Linked DNA regions of Homo sapiens. The protein of the gene in region 3 interacts with the protein of the main gene of each other region in a pairwise test. Each region holds a gene or a part of one and is shown on either strand. Other genes may lie near its edges.

Region 1 (7,000 bases), about 12 Mb from region 3:
GAATGAATTCAGCACCTTCAACTGAAATACCCAGGTTCTTGCATTGGGACTGACTAGGCAAGTAGCTCGACCCACGGAGAATGAAGAAAAGCAGGGTGGGGCGATGGCTCACCCAGGAGCAGCACGGAGACAAAGGAACACCCATCCCCAACCAAGGAAAGCATTCCCCTTGAAAACCAGCACAAGACATGGATGCCCTCTCTTATCACTCCTATTCAATAGTATTAGAAGTTCTGGCCAGGGCAATCAGGGAAGAGAAACAAATAAAGGGTATTCAAATAGGAAGAGGGTATTCAAATAGGAAGAGAGTAAGTCAAATCACCTTTGTTTGCAAGATGACATGTTTCTATATCTAAAAAACCCCATCATCTCAGCCCAAAAGCTTCTTAAGCTGGTAAGCAACTTCAGCAAAGTCTCAGGATACAAAATCAATGTGCAAAAATTGTTAGTATTCCTATACACCGACAACAGGCAAGCAGAGGGCCAAATTATGAATGAACTCTCGTTCTTTTGTATGAATGAACTGCTACAAAAAGAATAAAATACCTAGGAACAAGGGAAGTAAAGGACCTCTTCAAAGAAAACTATAAACTACTGCTCAAAGAAATAAGAGAGGACACAAACAAATGGAAAAACATTCCATGCTCATAGTTAGGAAGAATCAGTATTGTGCAAATGGCATACTGCCCAAAGTAATTTATAGATTCAATGCCACTCCCAGTAAACTACCATTGACATTCTTCACGGAATTAGAAAAAAACTATTTTAAAATTCATATGGAATCAAAAGAGAGCCCAAATAGTCAAGACAATCCTAAGCAAAAAGAACAAAGCTGGAGGCATCATGCTACCTGACTTCAAACTAAACTACAAGTCTACAGTAACCAAAACAGCATGGTACTGGTACAAGAACAGACACATAGACCAATGAAACAGAACAGAGAACTCAGAAATAAGAATGCACGTCTACAACCATCTGATCTTCGAAAAACCTGACAAAAACAAGCAATGGGGAAAGGATTCCCTATTCAATAAATAGTGCTGGGAGAACTGGCTAGCCATATGCAGAAAACTGAAACTGGACCCCTTCCTTATACCATAAGCAAAAATTAACTCAAGGTGGATTAAAGACTTAAATGTAAAACACAAAACTAAAAAAACCCTAGAAGAGAATCTAGGGAATACCAGCTGGGCGCGGTGGCTCATGCCTGTAATCCCAGCACTTTGGGAGGCCAAGATGGGTGGATCATGAGGTAAGGAGTTCGAGACCAGCCTGGCCAATATGGTGAAACCCCGTCTCTACTAAAAATACAAAAATTAGTTGGGCATGGTGGCACGTGCCTGTAGTCCCAGCTGCTTGGGAGGCTGAGGCAGGAGAATCGCTTGAACCCAGGAGGCGGAGGTTGCAATGAGCCTCCAGCCTAGGCGACAAAGCAAGACTCCATCTCAAAAAAAAAAAAAAAAAGAAAAAGAAAGAAAATCTAGGGAATACCAATCAGGACATAGGCATGGGCAAAGATTTCATGATGAAAACACCAAAAGCAATTGCAACAAAAGCAAAAATTGACAAATGGGATCTAATTAAACTAAAGAGCTTCTGCACAGCAAAAGAAACTATCTTCAGAGTGAACAGACAACCTACAGAATGAGAGAAAATTTTTGCAATCTATCCATCTAACAAAGGTCTAATATCCAGAGTCTACAAAGTACTTAAGCAAATTTACAAGGAAAAAACAACTCCATTAAAAAGTGGGCAAGGGACATGAACAGACACTTCTCAAAAGACATACATGTGGCCAAAAAACATATGAAAGAAAGCTCAATATCTTGATTTGAGAAATGCAAATCAAAACCACAATGAGACACCATATCATGCCAGTCAGAATGGTGATTATTAAAAAGTCAAGAAACAACAGATGCTAGTGAAGTTGCGGAGAAAAAGGAATGCTTTTACACTGTTGGTGGGAGTGTAAATTAGTTCAACCATTGTGGAAGACAGTGTGGCGATTCCTCAAAGACCTAGAGGCAGAAATACTATTTGACCCAGCAATCCCATTACTGGGTATATACCCAGAGAAATATAAATCATTCTATTATAAAGATACATGCACATTTATGTTCACTGCAGCACTATTCACAATAGCAAAGATACGGAATCAACCTAAATGCCCATCAATGATAGACTGGATAAAGAAAATATGGTATATATACAACCATGGAATACTACGCAGCCAGAAAAAGGAATGAGATCATGTCCTTTGCAGGGACATGGATGGAGTTGGAAGCCATTATCCTTAGCAAACTAACACAGGAACAGAAAACCAAACACCACATCTTCTCACTTATAAGTGGGAGCTGAATGGTGAGAACACATGGACACATGGGAGGGGGAGCATCAGGAAGAAGAGCTAATGGATGCTGGGCTTAATACCTAGGTGATGGGGTGATCTGTGCAGCAAACCACTGTGGCACATGTTTACCTATGTAACAAACCTGTACCTCCTGCACATGACCCCTGAAGTTAAAATAAAAGTCGAAGAAAAAACATTAAAGAAAAACATTTTCACAATTAAAGTCGACAGTGGCAGCAACTGCCTTACATGGTGGTAAACAGCCCATTCCTGGAGGTACTCAAGCAAGTGTTTTCAATCTTTCCTTTTTTTTTTTTTCTTTCTTCTGGAGACAGGGTCTCACTCTGTTGCCGAGGCTGGAGTGTAGTGGTGCAATCTCAGCTCACTGCAACCTCTACTCCCCAAGCTCAAGCAATCCTCCCACCTTAGTTTCCCGAGTAGCTGGGGCTACAGGTGTCCACCACCATACTCGGCTAATATTTTGTACTTTTTGTAGAGGTGGAGTTTCACCATGTTGCCCAGGCTGGTCTCGAACTCCTGGGCTCAAGTGATCTGCCCGCCTCAGCCTCCCAAAATGCTGGGATTATATGCGTGAGCCACCACGCCTGGCTCCAAGTGTTATCTTTCCTACATAGCAAGGACAGCATCAATATCTCAGGAGAGAGGCTAAAACAGAGGGCCATGAAGGTTCTTTCCTACTCTAATATTAGAAAATATTGAGCATGGGAGTCCCACATTCCATAAGCTAGGATCTCTGCTCACTACCCCAGTGTTCCCCTCCACAAGTGTACTTACGGAAAGTAATGGTCTGTTTGCCTGTTTCCCCCACCAAGGAAGAGGCCATGTGTCATTTACCTCTGAGCTGTCATTGCCTGACACTGTACCTGGCACACAGTAGACAGTGAATAAGCACATAAACAAGCTTTAAAAATTGTTTAAAAAATATCTCAAAGACAAGTTCAAACCTCAGTTTTGTCAGAGTCATCATTTCCCAGTAACTCATCATCTTCTTCTCTTCCTGAGCCTCTTGGGGATCCTGGCTGATGTTTTGGGGTTTCACCAGGATCCTCAATGTTTACTGTGGTGGCATCTGGGTTTGCTGTCAGAGAAGTGGCTGCATTGCCAAATTCTGAAATCAATTAGAGCACACGGGCCTCAGAAACCTTACCCACACTAGAAATGCTATACTTTGAATTTAAAGACAAGCTGTCACAACCTCAGCTTTGCTATAGACCCTACCTGATACAAAGGGCAAAAGCTTTGAAAAACAAAAAATCTCATCAGGAGATCAATCTGATATAGAAAAATGACTATGAAGACAACAGAATTTGGAGTCAGACCTAGATTTTGGTTCTGGCTCAGCTAGCCACTTACTAAATACACAAGCCTGAGTAAGTAACTAAACCCCTCTAAACCTCAGTGTTTTCATCTGTATCATGGGGAGAATAACATTTATTTTAAATAATTTTGGGAGAACAAGGAATATAATCTAAGTCCTAAACTTTACTTCTTTGATTCAAGTCCAAAAAATTTTAATGAAGGTTATTTTTTCCAGTAAGTCTACATAATCACTACAGAAAATATGGGAACAAAAATGAAAGTGGGATCAGCTGCGCACAGTGACTCACGCCTGTAATCCCAGCACTTTGGGAGGCCAAGGCAGGCGGATCACCTGAGGTCAGGAGTTCGACCAGCCTGGCCAACATGGTGAAATGCTGTCTCTACTAAAAATACAAAAATTAGCCGGGTGTAGTGGCACATGCCTTGTAATCCCAGTTATGCTGGAGGCTGAGACAGGAGAATCACTTGAACCCAGGAGGCAAAGGTTGCAGTGAGCCGAGATCACACCACTGCACTCCAGCCTGTGTGACAGAGTGAGACTATGTCTCAAAAAAAAAGGAAAAAAGAAAGTAGAAATCACAGGATAAAAACCACTCTTAGGCCAGGCATGGTGGCTCATGTCTATAATTCCAGCACTTTGGGAGGCCAAGGCAAGAGGACTGCTCGAGCCTCAGAGGTAGAGGCTGCAGTGAGCCGTGATCATACCACTGTACTCCAGCCTGGGCAAGAGAGTAAGACTTTGTCTCAAAAAAAAAAAAAAAAACCCAAAAAACAAAAAAACACTCTTAGTTCTACCACATAAAGGCAAACACTATTAACATTTTAGTATATTTCCTTTTCTTCACATAGTGAGATTCATGCCACTGATGATCATTCATTTATTCAACAAATATTTACTGCATGCCCACAATGTGCCAAGTACTGATCTAGAACATGATACTATAATTAATTTTGCATCCTGCTTTGTCAAGATTATGTAAAATTGGGGATTATACACAAAAATGATTTTTCATATAACAGTCTCTTAAAATGATCACTTATGTGACTGCATAATATTCCATCAATGAAGGTTTTCTTACAAATACAAAAGGAGTGTCTGTGTAGAAAAAGCTTTTTGGGGGGCAGCCTTAAGATGAACACCTATCAGTGTGATCACTAGGTCAACAGGGTGCAAACCATTTTCAAGGATCCTGAACCATGTTACCAAACTGCTTTCCAAAAGAACCTTACCTACTTGTGTCCACCAGCAGTGATTGAGACTTCCTGTCTCCGAATATCCTAACATACTTTATTTCAGCTGCTCTTGAATAAAATTCAGGGCAGCTCTGAACCTTCGAAGGCCAAAGGAAGAGTGCCAGCAGGGCACCATTATAACACTACAAGCAGGGCACCAGTCCTAGCAGTAGGACAGCTGAGTTCACTCTTATTGCCTCTCAACTATATGAGCAGTTTTATGGAGAACACTAAAGTGACTGAAATTAATCAGGTAGCTAATATGCAACAATTACTGAAGCCTCAATTGGCAATGTTTGGGTAGTTTAAGCAACATGAGGTTCTGGAGTGAGATGGTCCTTTGTTCAAGGTAAGACTCTTAATACTCAGTAGCTCCATGACCTTGAGCAAATTACTCCATGGCTCTGAGTCTCTGTTTCTTCAATTATAAAACATAGATAATACCTACCCCACAAAGAGATTTTGAGGATGATGAAATAATAACTATCATTACAGGTACCTCTTATTGATTGTACAGGGCAATGACATTTAAAAAGATAGTCACAACTTTGCTGGAGGGAATTAGACCAAGGAAGATATACTTAACTCTCACAGTTAAAAAGCAGTAGTTAAAATAACTAGAAAAGTATAACTGAAGCTGGGCGTGGTGGCACACACAAACTGGTGGTCCCAGCTACTTGGGACGCTGAGGCAGGAGAATCGCTTGAACCCAGGAGGCAGAGGTTGCAGTGAGCCGAGATCGCACCACTGCACTCCAGCCTGGCAACAGAGTGAGACTCTGTCTCACAAAAAAAGAAAGAAAAGTAAAGTATAACTGGGCTGGATGCAGTGGCTCACGCCTGTAATCCCAGCACTTTGGGAGGCTGAGGCGAGCAGATCACTTGAGGTCAGGAGTTCGAGACCAGGCTGGCCAACATGGTAAAAACCCATCTCTACTAAAAACATAAAAATTAGCTAGGCATGTTGGTGGACACGTGTAATCCCAGCTACTCAGGAGGGTGAGGCACAAGAATCGCTTGAAATGGGAGGTGAAGGATGCAATGATCTGAGATCATGTCACTGCACTCCAGCCTGGGTGACAGAGCGAGACTCGGTCTCAAAAAAAAAAAAAAAAAAAGAGAGAAAAAGAGTATAATTGGATTGTTTGTAATACAAAGGATAAATGCTTGAAGTGATGGACACCCTGTTTACCCTGATGCAATTACTACACATTACATGCCTGTATCAAAATATATGAGTGTACCCTGTAAGTATATATACCTACTACATACCCATGAAAATTAAAAAATTTTTAAAAAGCAGTAGTTTACCAGGGGGAAGGAATGCCAGAAGGAGGAACAGACAGTACCACTTTAGAAGCACAAAGGTCAAAAAGGCCCCAAGGAGGGCGATAACTCCTCTAGTTATTGGGATCAGGAAAGGTTTCTTGGAGAAGATACCATATGAGAAGGATGGCCAGAGGTGCTGGGGATGGCATCTCATGCAAAGGGAAGGGGATGAGCAAGACCCAGAAGATGGAAAGTGTGCCCGTGATGGAGGGACAGTGACGGCATAGTTTGACTGGAGTGTGGGCTGCGTGTACCCCTAACATGACGACTCTTCACACAGTCTGCTCTGTGCTGGTTATTCTTGTCCATCTCAGCTCCTTGAGCATAAAACTGGTATGTGTCTTATTTCTGCCACCAACATTCTCTGCTTTTACATCCTGGCATATCCTAAGCTAGTTTCAGCCTCTGCTCCTTTCCTGAAACAATGCCTTTCACCTGAAGGCTTCTGACCTCTACTTTTTCATCCAATACTACCGTTCCTCCCCGGAGAAGCCTTTCATGACCCACCCCCCGCCACCCCACCCCCAGCATCCTGTGTGCTTTTCTAAAGACCCAAGTCCTTAACACAGTTGATAAAGCCCTGGGTGATTTGTCACCTGCCTCCTCCTAAGCCTCACCTTGTGTCAGCTTTCCCCACCATCCGTGATCTGGAACACAAGTGTTCTCCCAATCCTTTAGGAAAAAAATTAAACTTCCTCACTCCACAGGGGCTTTTGCGAGGGCCACTGTCTTTAAACTTTCTTGCACT
Region 2 (5,085 bases), on a different chromosome or scaffold from region 3:
GCTTCAACTGTAATAATTTTCCTTTTTTTTTTTAGATGGATTTTTGCTCTTGATGCCAAGGCTGGAGTGCAATGGCACAATCTTGGCTCACTGCAACCTCTGCCTCCCCGGTTCAAGTGATTCTCCTGTCTCAGCCTCCCGAGTAGCTGGGATTACAGGCGTCTGCCACCACACCCGGCTAATTTTTTTTTTTTTTTGTATTTTTAGTAGAGACAGGTTTTCACCATGTCGGTCAGGCTGGTCTCGAACTCCTAACCTCAGGTGATCCACCCACCTTGGCCTCCCAAAGTGTTGGGATTACAGGCATGAGCCACTGCAGTCGGCCAATTTTACTTTTTAAAAAGATAATATATTCATAGGTTCATTGTGTAATGAAAAATTAACAAACAATAATAACCAAGTAAGACATGGCCTGTCTAAGGAGACAAACGGGATGGAGCATCCAAGCCAAACGCAGAATGAAGAACAAAGAAACACGGTGACACACTTGCAATCGCTGGTGGGTTCTGAGTCTTCACTTTATTACTATGTCACCAGAAGTCACCACCTTCACTTGGTTCACCACAGATGGATGGATGTCATAAAGGAGGGTGCCACGGGGCCACTGGATTCACTCGAGACTTAACCAGGTGGTGGGGGGGTCTAGAGTGGGGGCCCAGGATGGGGACCGCCCTTCACCGCACACACACGCACACACACACACAGATATATTTGTGGAGCCTTATATTATACATCTTATATATAGAAAATATATATATTTATACTATACACAGGCAGTAACGCTGCGGGAGGGGCCGGGGCACCGACAAGGGCTGTGCGCACCAGGACATGGGGAGTGTCAGGTCAAGTGCATCGCTGGGAGGCAGCCGGCCCAGTCCCTTCTCCCATAAACTCCTGGGAGGGGCATTCCCCCTTTCGTGCTCCTTAGAGAATCAAAGGGGTCTTGGGCCAAGGTTAGGGGTCTCCCAGGGCTAACAGGCAGGGTGTCTCAGTTACATGGGGAAACCTGGGATCCCCGAGGCTTTGAAGATCAAGAATCACCAGGGAAGGATGGAGTAGGGAACTAACGTCAGTCCCCTGGGAATTAGCCCCTCAACTGCGACACCCCCAGGTGGATAGGAGCCGTGCAGGCAGGACAGTCTGTGACTGCCCAGGATGAGCCAACTCAGAAGGCAGAAGACCTGACTCCTGAACCTCTCCCTCTGTGCTTGACCTTGGACAAGTCGCTGTCTCCCTACCCCAGACTCTGCCGACTCTAAGCGTCCTTGCGACTCTACACTTATGTGAAACCTTTTTTCCTGGGCCCTCTCTTGTGCTTGATGGGGAGGAGGGAGCCACCCTGCAGGGTCCAGCTGCAGGAGGGCCCTTCTCCAAGGAAAGCTTTGGGAGCAAGGGAGAAGTAGGGGAGGGCAGCTGGGAGGAAAAGGGATACCGGACAGAGTTGGGCCTGGGGTTCCCCAGGGGCTGTCCTCTGCCAACAGAAGGAGCGAGTTTCCCCATGAACCTTCCAGGGCAGAGTCAGGAGCCCTGGGTCCCATCCAAATCTCGCCCTCCATCTCTCACCCTCTCTCATCTCCATCCTGGGCAGGTCCCTGCCAGAGCCCAGCCTGATGGGGAAGATCATGCCTGGAAGGGCTTCTGGGCTGAACCCGGGAAGAGTGAGGGATTCTTCGTGAGATGACTCAGCACCCCCCATTCCTGGCAGGAGTCTTGACAGCTTTCCCTGCCTAGGGTGGCAGGCAGGGCCTGTCACAAACACCCAAGATGGAGTTAAGCTTACCTGGTACCCTGCCCTCCGGCTGAGGATCACCAGCAGCTGGCTGGCACCCGAGGAGAAACAGATGGGCAGTACCCTGAGGTCTCCTAGTGCCCATCAGCAGGAGAGGCTTTTGGTGGACAGTGGGTGAGGGTCAGAACATCTCACAGCCTCTTGTGGTGGGCACAGAACTTCACTCTGCCATAAACACTCCTGCCCTCACTCACGCCCTCACCTTTGGCCTGGTACAGGTTTCACTCTTCAGGCCAACAGATAACCTGCCCCCATGCTGGTCCCATGTGGGCCACCTGGCGGCGGGGGACTGTGGACAGAGCCCCTTCTCCGGATTGGAAAATGAAGTCAGCAACAACCAGCTGTCACACAGCTGGCTGGGGTCCTCTCCATCACTGCTGTCCTTTGGGAGGACTTGGACACACCTGAGTTTAGATCCGTGTTCCACTGCCAACTCGCCTATGCTTGCCGAGCCTCAGTTTCCCTTCTGTTAAATGGGGATAATGGTGCTACTTCTCTGCTTAGGACTTCCTCCTCTTTCCCTTAACTCTGGCCCAGCTTTGGGGCCATCGAAGCAGGGACCACCCATGCCCTTGGTATCTCCAGCACAGGGGCCGGGTAACTGCTGAGTGAGTAAGCAGGTGAGGGATCGCCTGCCTCTTAGGATTCTTAGATGGGGGATGGGGGGATGGTGGTGAAAACACCCAGCACTGGGCCCGTCCACCACCTGCTCTGCTCTGCTCCCTGAAGGACAGGCCAGTGGACACTGGGTGGACAGGGGGATGGGCCCCCAGCGCTCTCCCATACCTCCCTGTCCCTTATGGCTCAGTGAAGAGCCCACCTTGTGCAAGAATCGACCTGCCCCCACTCAGAAGAGATTATGACCTCCTCAGGCCCCACGGCCCTCTTTGGGCCTTTGGGTCACCTGCCACACTCTCCCCTACAGCCCATGGTCTTCCCTGGGCCTCCCATGCCTCAGGGGCTCTTGCCTGTGTCATCCTGGGGGCAGTGTCTCTCCACGGCCACAGCCCAGGAGCCGACCTGGCTGATTCCAAAGCCCTGTCCTTGCCGCTCTGCCTCCCATAGGGAGGCTGGCTCCACAGTGGGCCTTCTGGAAGGCCAAGGAAACACCTCTCATGCGCTTGGCTGCTGCAGCCCCCGAACCCTGACTGACCCCAGATGAGAGGAGAGGTGACATAGTGTCCCAGATCAGTTCTGTTTCCTGGGAGGTCACAAGGGCAGGGAATCGAGGCACCTGCTGGGCAGCTGGGGCCAAGAAACCCAGGCGTCAGGGCCAGCTTTGCCACTCACTCACCGTGACCTCGGGCCAGTCACACCCTCATCTGTGCCTTGTTGTCCACCCAGCCCTAGGTAAGGGCTTAGTGACCCCTCCTAGAGGCAAGGACAGTGATCAGTCCTTTGAGAGACCACGAAGGGGTTTGCTGGAGCCCCCTGGAACAAGCGTCTGTGGGACACGCAGAGCACAGAGCAGCACCCGGGGTGAGCCCTCTTGGAGGAGGCCAAGGGCCAGGGGTAGGACCAGGGGGATGTGGGTGGAGGGACCCGGAGGTGGGGCTGTCCCCAGGGGAGGAGGAACAGCTGGGGCAGAACAGGCCCTTGGCATGCAGCAGAATCAGGGTGTCTCAAGGGGCTGAGGGCCCCAAGGCCTCCCAGAATGACAGTAACACTGAGCAGGGAAGCCCCAAGCGTGGGGATGGTAGGAGGTGGGTGGCCAGGGAAGAGCACGTGGTCTGCAGTCGGGCAGCCTGGGCTTGGCCCCACCTCTATCACTAGCTGCCTGAGTGATTCTGGGCAAGTAATCTTGACCTCTCTAGACCTCAGTTTCCTCAACCATAAAATGGAGACGGCCCTGACACTCTTAGCAGGACTGCCAGAGCAGGGTGACAGCCCCCAGTGTCCTGTGGGTGTTTACACTCACCCTATGACCAAGCCACGGTGTAGCCACACTTCCCAGCATTATCTGGATCTGTCTTTCCCACCATTCTGGCCTCTGGTACCACCAGGGCTTCCTCCACAGCTCATCGCTCCCCTTTCCAGTGGCCATTTCTGCCAATGTCACCACCCATGCCCAGCACAGGCCGGATGCCCAGTAGGCGCTCAAGGAATGCTTGATGACACAATGTATGAATGCAAATACCCCTGGCCCCCACCCTCTAGGCCCCTGCGGGGCACATGCCCTGGGATATACTTGCACATACGTAGACAGTCCCCAACACTGGACTGCCCCACCCCTGCCCCGAGCTACCCTGGACCTCAGTGGGACAAGGCAGAGGCTGATGAGGCGCTGGGCAGGGCAGCCTGGGCAGGAGCAGGGGCTGGGTGTGGAGAGAGGGGACAGATGGGGAGGGGCGGGGGCAGGCGGTCACTGTGGCTCAGTAGCCCTGCGACTGGTAGCCCTGGGGCTCGGTGTCGAAGGTGTTGGCCGGCTGCTGGTAGGTGCCGCCCATACCGGCGGGATCCGGCCCAGTGGGCTCCACGTAGGGCGCGTAAGGCATGCTGGAGTCCTGGCTGGGGTCCATGTAGTCCTGGGAGAAGAGGGCCGAGTCGGCGCCAATCTGGTACCGCTGGAAGGCCAGCACAGCCTGGCCCGCCTGGGGACAAAGGCCGGCGAGGACAAGGACAGGCGGGAGGGGGTGGTTAGGGGAGAGACAGACAAGAGCACTGGGTTAGTGGTGGTTAGTTCACAGGACACAGGCAGGAGAGGGTTAAAGATCCTCAAAGCACCAAACATGAGACCAAGCTTGGCTGTGGAGAAGGAAGGCTGTTCTCGCAGCCACCCCCGGAAATGCCCAGAACCATATCATCCAGCCAGAAAGTACCCCAGAAATCACCTGCCCCTGTCTCCCAATCCCAGAGGTCAGTCTGGGCTACCAAAAGTTCTAGATCTCCATTATGGAGTGTTAAGATGGCTCAAAGGCTCACAACAGCCTTCTTAAAAAAAGCTTCTCAGCGGGACAAAGGACTGTTAGCATCTCCTAAGAGTCATTCTTTTGTCTCTCTTGCAGCTAGGCATGGCCATGTGACTACGTTTTGGCCAATGGGGTACCCTCATGTTCTCTGTCCCACCCTCTGACCTGATGCCTGGAACACAGATGTGATGGCTGGAGCTCTAATTGCCAAAAGGGACCACAAAGACCATGAGCCAAGTCTGTAGGAATGAAAGATGCCTGGGGGCCATGCACCGCGGCTCATGCCTGTAATCCCACAACTTTGATAGGCCAAGGTGGAAGGATTGCTTGAGGCCAGGAGATCAAGACCAGCCTGGGCTAAAATATGCACCTCTGGCATATTGACTA
Region 3 (7,404 bases):
TGCAGAAAGTTCAAAGAGGGTGGTATGTTCGAGGGTGACCTGGGGTACATTAGAATAGATGACCAGGGAAAGTTCTGCTTTTAGAAAGGAATCTGTCAGTTTAGATCACATGGTATGAAGGAGTCAGCCAATGAGAAGATCATGGGGAAGGACATTGCAAGCAGGGGGCACAGCTAGCGCAAAGGCCCCAGGATAACAGCTATGAGCTCAAGAGTGTTCAAGGGACAGAAAAAAGGCTGGTGTGGCTACAGATTAAGCAAATGAAGGGAAAAGAGTACAAAATGAATGGAAGAAGTAGATAATACCAGACCATAAAGGCTTTGTAGGCTAGGGCAAGGAATTTAGGGTTTATTCTAAGCTCTTAAAAGGTTTCAAGCATGCGTGCACTCAAAAGATCTTTACCGAACTAGCTTTTGCAAGACACTCTACTATGTTCTATAGGGAAGGCAGAAATGACCAAGTTAAAATTCTGTCTTTAAAGAAATTGTGGCTCAGTGGTACAGAAAACAGTAAAGTTTCTAGGGTATATATTATATAGTGGCTTCTTAACACAATATAAGCTACCTACATAGTAATTTTAAAATTATCACTACTTATCTATCCCTGGTAGAAATCATCTTATGTTCTAATATTCACAATTAATTAATTTTTTGACCTAAACATTTAAAATAGCAATGATTTTGAAATAGTAGTATGTCTTTCATTTAAAATGTAACTGTTACTTTTCTTTTTGGATTTTGCCTGGGTCCAACTGACAGCGTTTACTGGCCCTTATTCGTCCTGATTTTCCACGCCATCTCCCCCATCCCCCATTTCATTGCCAAAAGAGTCACCTATGACTCAGATGCAACCAGTAGTGCCTGTCGGGAACTGGCATATTTCTTCACTACTGGAATTGTTGTTTCTGCCTTTGGATTTCCTGTTATTCTTGCTCGTGTGGCTGTGGTAAGTTTTATTTTCTATTGTTTTGCCCAACCGTTGCTGAGTTTACTTCAGAGGCCTGTGTCTGGGACCTCCATTTCATGCTCATTACTTAGGCTTTATACTCAAGGCCGTGTGTTTTTAGTTTCTCTGTTCCTCTACTTTAGACCTGCCTAACAGTAGTTCGGCCATGCCTTCAGAGTGCTTTCTTTATTTCTCTTACAACTTTTAGCCAGACGATATGATTTCTTACTTTTTCTACTTTAAGCTATTCTCTGGAATTGTTCTTAAATTCCTGCCTCTTAAATCTTACAGTAATCCACAGATACTATGCTAGCAGTACTTTTCTAGTTGCAAGATGAAGATATTTCAAATTCTTCTCCTGCAAATGGGATCATGGACTCAACTCTCAACTCAGTATAATAGGTATATGTTGAGGGACAACTGTGTAGCTTCCAGAAAATGCAGTGAATAAGTTGACATCTTCACTTCCAAGACAAAAACTTTCTTTTTGTCTTCAGAGTACACATTGTAGGTATAATTTATTCAATTATTTGCTATTCACTGTCTTTCCTACTATTTGATTTTATTCCCTCCAATTACGTTCTATTTTAATTTTATGAAACTCTTATTTGAGGCATTGAATATCAGATAAGCGCAAGTCTTGTTCATTCAATAAATATCTTTGCAACAACTGCTACTTGTAAAACACCAGAAATAAGAAATAGGTACTGTCTCTGCTCCTGAGGAACACAGAAACTAGCTTGCTGGGTAAGTATACTATAAGTGTACTAAGTGAGACGGTTGAAGCATGATCAGAATGCCATAGGGGCACCAAGAAGAGAGAAATTCCGACTGGCATTTGATATGGGCCTCTAAGGATAAATAGCATTTGTATTGAGGTAGGATGGCTGTTGTATGGAATGACATTCAAGTGTAAGAATGCAGTATATAGAATAAAGAAGAATCCAGTGTGGTAGAGCTAAAAGAAAGTTGTTGAGGTTAAGGCTGGAAGGGTTGTGAAACCTGATTAGCAATGGTCTTGAACCCCATGCCAGTTTGATCTTTGTCTAGATAATGGGGAAAGATTGAAGGTTTTTGAATACAACAAGATTGTCATGACTTTATTTTTCTTGTGCTTTAGACCAGCCCTTCTTAAGCGCTGCAGTAAATATTTATATTTTTTCCTTTCAATACTGCCATCATATTTTGTGAAGAAACTTTCATTGATGTTTCTCTTGCTTAAAGTAAAACAAAAAATGCCCACTAGAGGGTACTCTCACCCCCAAATGTGCTTCTGTAAAACCATCTACAAACCATCTACTAAGCTGGAAAGCAGTTTTCAGTTGTATGAAGACTATTATTTAAAGTCTTTTCTTGCCTAGAAAAGAAACACACAAATTTATAACTCTACAATTTTTATTTTCCATGAAAGAAGTTGATGTGTGCAGAACTTTCAGTACCCAATATTGTAATTGCACTATTTATAATCTTACCACTTGAGTTTTACTTAAGGCAATCATTGTCAATTAAAAACAAGTAGAGAAATATGTCTAATTGGGAACATGTTAAGGATGATACCAGACTTAATTAACAAGCATCACAGAAGTAATTAGACTCATTACTGAACAGTTCATTGTCTCCTGTTACATTATTAAGCCTTTTAGCAGCTTTGTGTAACATTTCATTGGATGTTTCTAATGCAGAAAATAATAGGGATTGCAAAGAGTACAATATGAAGGAAGTAAGGATTTAATCCTTCTTTTCTTGTCTTTCAGATCAAATGGGGAGCCTGCGGCCTTGTGTTGGCAGGCAATGCAGTCATTTTCCTTACAATTCAAGGGTTTTTCCTTATATTTGGAAGAGGAGATGATTTTAGCTGGGAGCAGTGGTAGCACTTTATTCTGATTACAGTGCATTGAATTTCTTAGAACTCATACTATCTGTATACATGTGCACATGCGGCATTTTACTATGAAATTTAATATGCTGGGTTTTTTAATACCTTTATATATCATGTTCACTTTAAGAAAGACTTCATAAGTAGGAGATGAGTTTTATTCTCAGCAAATAGACCTGTCAAATTTAGATTATGTTACTCAAATTATGTTACTTGTTTGGCTGTTCATGTAGTCACGGTGCTCTCAGAAAATATATTAACGCAGTCTTGTAGGCAGCTGCCACCTTATGCAGTGCATCGAAACCTTTTGCTTGGGGATGTGCTTGGAGAGGCAGATAACGCTGAAGCAGGCCTCTCATGACCCAGGAAGGCCGGGGTGGATCCCTCTTTGTGTTGTAGTCCATGCTATTAAAAGTGTGGCCCACAGACCAAGAGCCTCAACATTTCCTAGAGCCTTATTAGAAATGCAGAATCTGAAGCCCCACTCTGGACCCAGGACATTTTGATGAGATCCAAAGGAGTTGTATGCACATGAAAGTTTGAGAAGCATCATCATAGAGAAGTAAACATCACACCCAACTTCCTTATCTTTCCAGTGGCTAAACCACTTAACCTCTCTGGGTGTTACCTGCTCATTTGTTTAAAAAAAAAAAAAAAGTCTCACCTGCTTTCATGCTGAGGACAAGTTCAGATGTTCAAGCCTATAATATTTAGGCAGTTCCTCAAATTTATGAAAAGTGTTCTCAGAATTGGGAGACAGTCAAAGGGTACAAAGCCTCAGTTAGGAGGAATAAGTGTGATTTTTTTTTAAAGATCACTTGCACAGCATGCTAAATATAGGAATAATTGAATGTATATTTCAATATTGCTAAGAGAGTAAATTTCTAATGTTCTCATAAAAAAGTTAAATATTTGAGATCATATGTTAATTAGTGTAATCATTCCACCTTATATTCAAAAATCATAAAACCGTATTGTACCCTATAAAAATATACAATAATTTGTCAATATATAATCAAAATAAAAAACAAAACATACTCTCTCCCCCAAAAAAACATCTCAGTGGGGAACAGATGTATCTTTTCATCTGAAAGACAATGCTGGGGGAAGAGCTCCACTGAGATGCGGGCAGGGAGGCTGGGCTCGAGCCAGCCCCTGCGTTAGCAGGAGGGGGAGAACAGATAGGTAACTCTTTTACATTTCCTTTATGATCTGGCACTTCTCCCCAGCTCCTTCCCTCTGCCCCCCACCCCTACTCCTCAACAGTTCTGGTTTGCCCTGACTTCTCTACGGCTCTGGCTTCTTCCCGAAGAGATATAGGAGCCATGTAAGCACGCAGTGGGTGAACTGCTTAATTTCACTACGTGTTGATGTACTTGTCTTCCGTCCTGTAGGTCTTTTCTATATAACTTTATGCCACCCTTAAATGAATCATTGGGTATACCTGTCATGTTGGATCCTGTAATCACAGTTTTCCCTGCTCACCTTTTTGTCTAAGATCTATTGAGAAAGGGAAATATGGGAAGGAGAACCATTTGATCAGAATACAACCAATAGTCTTTAAGCATTGTTAAAGTATGAAACTGAAATACATTCAAAACACTTAATCCTTGAGGCTTGTGATCTGAGTAATTAGCAGGTATGATGCTGGGACTGGAAAATAGAAAGTAATAACTAAAGGGTTAATGTGCAACGTTATTTTTTGGCCTTGTTCATGATTTTATGTTTTCAGTGTCCTGTGTACATATAGAATTGTTAAAGTTGTCATTTCCAATATTTATATTAGAAAAATTATTTAGATACTTTATAATTTTAACCGGCATTTTTAATAATGACACTTGCATTTATTGTATTGTAATAAATTTCACTTTTAACTTTAAAAGTTTAACTTTAAAATTTTTTTGTGATGTTGCCTTGCCTGAAAAGATAACAAAAATGAGAGAATTTCTTGATGTTTTAAAATGGGCAGTTTTGAGCAATAATCTGTCCTAACAGAACAGTAGCAATAAGTTTTAGGATACCATCTTGAATGTCTAGTTGGTGTGCAATAGCTTTTCTTTCTAAGATGGCAATAATGATTCATTTCTACTACATTTTGCAAAAGTGTTTTTGTTGCTTATACACATTTTCAATAACCAAGGTAGCCTTCATATGTAGCCTTAAAGCATTACCTCTTGATTGTATCTTTAGATTGATATAAAGTACTTGCATATAGAGTATTTGAAGTGATAGATTATTAGATTTGCTCTATGTCTGAAAAGAGAGCTATTCTGCAGTGCCTAAATATCATTTAAACAGTAAATATTAATAGGAAATATTGCTATATCTGAATATATAATACAAAAGTTTGATCATGGTGACACAAATGTTGGACATTTTTTTCCTTATAAAAGGCTCTTTTTTTATATATTGTACAATATATTTGGAGATTCAGAGCATAGTGACTATAGTCGAAAACTGAGATTGCACTTCCAAAATTGGCCACAAGTAAATAATCTTATGAAGGGATTCTTTATCATGTTTCAAACAAGTGGGTTACAAGCAGACTTTGAGACACTTTTCCACAGAAACAATACTATGAATTGGTGATTGAGTTCCCAGGCCAAGCCTCCCTCAACAGGTTCAACTCTAATATACCTAACCTGTGATACTGAAGGTGCCTGCCTGAGTTTTGGGTCTCTGAGACAGGGTAGTGTGAGTAGTTTGGAGGAAGGACAGTGCAACTTTCCACCCCTTTTCCTAAGAACAAGGTCTTTCTCCTTTTAATTTTTCCACTCATTTTCACCTCCTAATGCCCTTGAGATCCAGGTACACTCCTGGGAGTTTTGTTCACCTCTCCCAACTGAGAACCTTCCCACTGGGCTCCATCCTCCCTCCTGAGGTTCTTCATATTCCAGAGTCACCCACCCTTCTCCTCCCATTAGTCAGTTCTCTAAGTACAGCTGATGTCATGTGGTGCTGAGAAGAAAGCAGATCACACTTCATCACAGAAAGAATGCCTTGTGATTATCTTCTCCACATCTGAAATTCCTTTTGACACCTGCATTGGGCCGACTGCCATTCCCATGACTGCTGCACCTGCGTTTTTAGAGAATGCCTCATAACCCACTGATTCTCATTCACAGAGAATGGGAGAACGGAATGAAGAAAGATTCCAGCAGCTTATAGAAGGATAGCAATATTTTGGGACAGGGAAAATCCTGTCATACCTCATCTCTTCCTCAGGAGGAGTTCTGAGCTGGTCCTGCTTTTCATAGTTGTTTCTTTTCTTCCACTTAAGAACTCATAGATTTTTCTTACTGTCCTAAGGAAGTCCTTACCTCTGAGGTATCTCCTCAATGAATACTGTTTTCAAGGCTGAAATAGTTCATTATGTTAATAACCTTCTTTATGTTCTCAGGGAAATGCTTAGGTGGTGTCACAAAATGTGCCTTTTCTTTTCTTTTTTTTTTTTTTTTTTTGAGGCAGAGTCTCGCTCTGTTGCCCAGGCTGGAGTGCAGTGGTGCGATCTTGGCTCACTGCAAGCTCCGCCTCCCGGGTTCACGCCATTCTCCTGCCTCAGCCTCCCAAGGAGCTGGGACTACAGGCTCCCGCCACCACGCCTGGCTAATTTTTTTGTATTTTTAGTAAAGACGGGTTTCATCGTGTTAGCCAGGATGGTCTCGATCTCCTGACCTCATGATCCGCCCGCCTCTGCCTCCCAAAGTGCTGGGATTACAGGCCTGAGCCACTGTGCCCAGCCAAAATGTGCCTTTGCAAAGTTTGCGAAATCAGATTTTGTATCCCAATAGAACCAAAATATTTATGAGGATGCTAGCATTTTCCAAGCATAGTAATTAGTTCACAACTGAGAAATATTATGTCTGTAGTAGATAAATATTAGTTGTGCATTTTAATTTAATTCTCCTTTTTCCATTTTGTCTCATGAAGTACCTTATTGCAAAAATCCCACTGAGTAATAGCTCATAAATTATAATCTTTCAAATAGCCATGCTACCAGCGTACAACAGTGATACATGTAACCCCAAATGTGATGTGAGAGGACGATTACTTTGTAAATAAAACTTGTTATTGACATTTTAACAAAGGCTTTTATGTACATTATTAAATGAAAAAGTTTATATTTTACTTTGCGGTACGTTACATTTGGAAAGGAGATCAGCAAGTTAATTTTCCCAGTGTTTTTGTCTGTATAATCTTAATGTGAATCTGACCAGTTTGAAGCCTGTACTTGCTGTAGTTGAAGAGAAACAGTTCAGGAATGTTGTGCTGACTGGAAGGAATCCAGGCCTTAATTTCTGTGGCTGACACTCCCCATGGTGGACATGGAAGATTGGAAAAGCTGTATTGGAAAAGAAAAAAACCTGACACCTTAAGAAAAGTGCTCTACATATTTTGAAGAGTCTTTTTGCACACTACAGAAAAGAATGCACTAATAGAAAGTAGTCTTTAAGGAATAATATGTCCTCCTTATGCACAAAACATTTGGGAAAGATCTGATGTTTTACTAGTGGATTTAGGCAGCCAGATTGTAAAGAAATCAAGCTAGTTATTTCTTTGCATTGCCAAGCTAAGTGTAAAGT

Evidence for each region.
Region 1: the proteins of LEPROT (region 3) and YIPF1 interact in binary tests that used the Homo sapiens proteins (3 or more experiments, as listed by UniProt).
Region 2: the proteins of LEPROT (region 3) and SYNGR1 interact in binary tests that used the Homo sapiens proteins (3 or more experiments, as listed by UniProt).

Annotation. Positions count from the first base shown.
Region 1 is NC_000001.11:53,879,798-53,886,797, forward strand, and holds part of YIPF1 (protein YIPF1), read right to left. Parts: intron 3,480-7,000; coding exon 3,316-3,479; intron 1-3,315.
Region 2 is NC_000022.11:39,380,991-39,386,075, reverse strand, and holds the end of SYNGR1 (synaptogyrin-1), read right to left. Parts: intron 4,381-5,085; coding exon 4,162-4,380; 3' UTR 501-4,161; downstream 1-500. UniProt on the Homo sapiens protein: May play a role in regulated exocytosis. Modulates the localization of synaptophysin/SYP into synaptic-like microvesicles and may therefore play a role in synaptic-like microvesicle formation and/or maturation.
Region 3 is NC_000001.11:65,429,104-65,436,507, forward strand, and holds the end of LEPROT (leptin receptor gene-related protein), read left to right. Parts: intron 1-758; coding exon 759-945; intron 946-2,699; coding exon 2,700-2,816; 3' UTR 2,817-6,904; downstream 6,905-7,404. UniProt on the Homo sapiens protein: Negatively regulates leptin receptor (LEPR) cell surface expression, and thus decreases response to leptin. Negatively regulates growth hormone (GH) receptor cell surface expression in liver.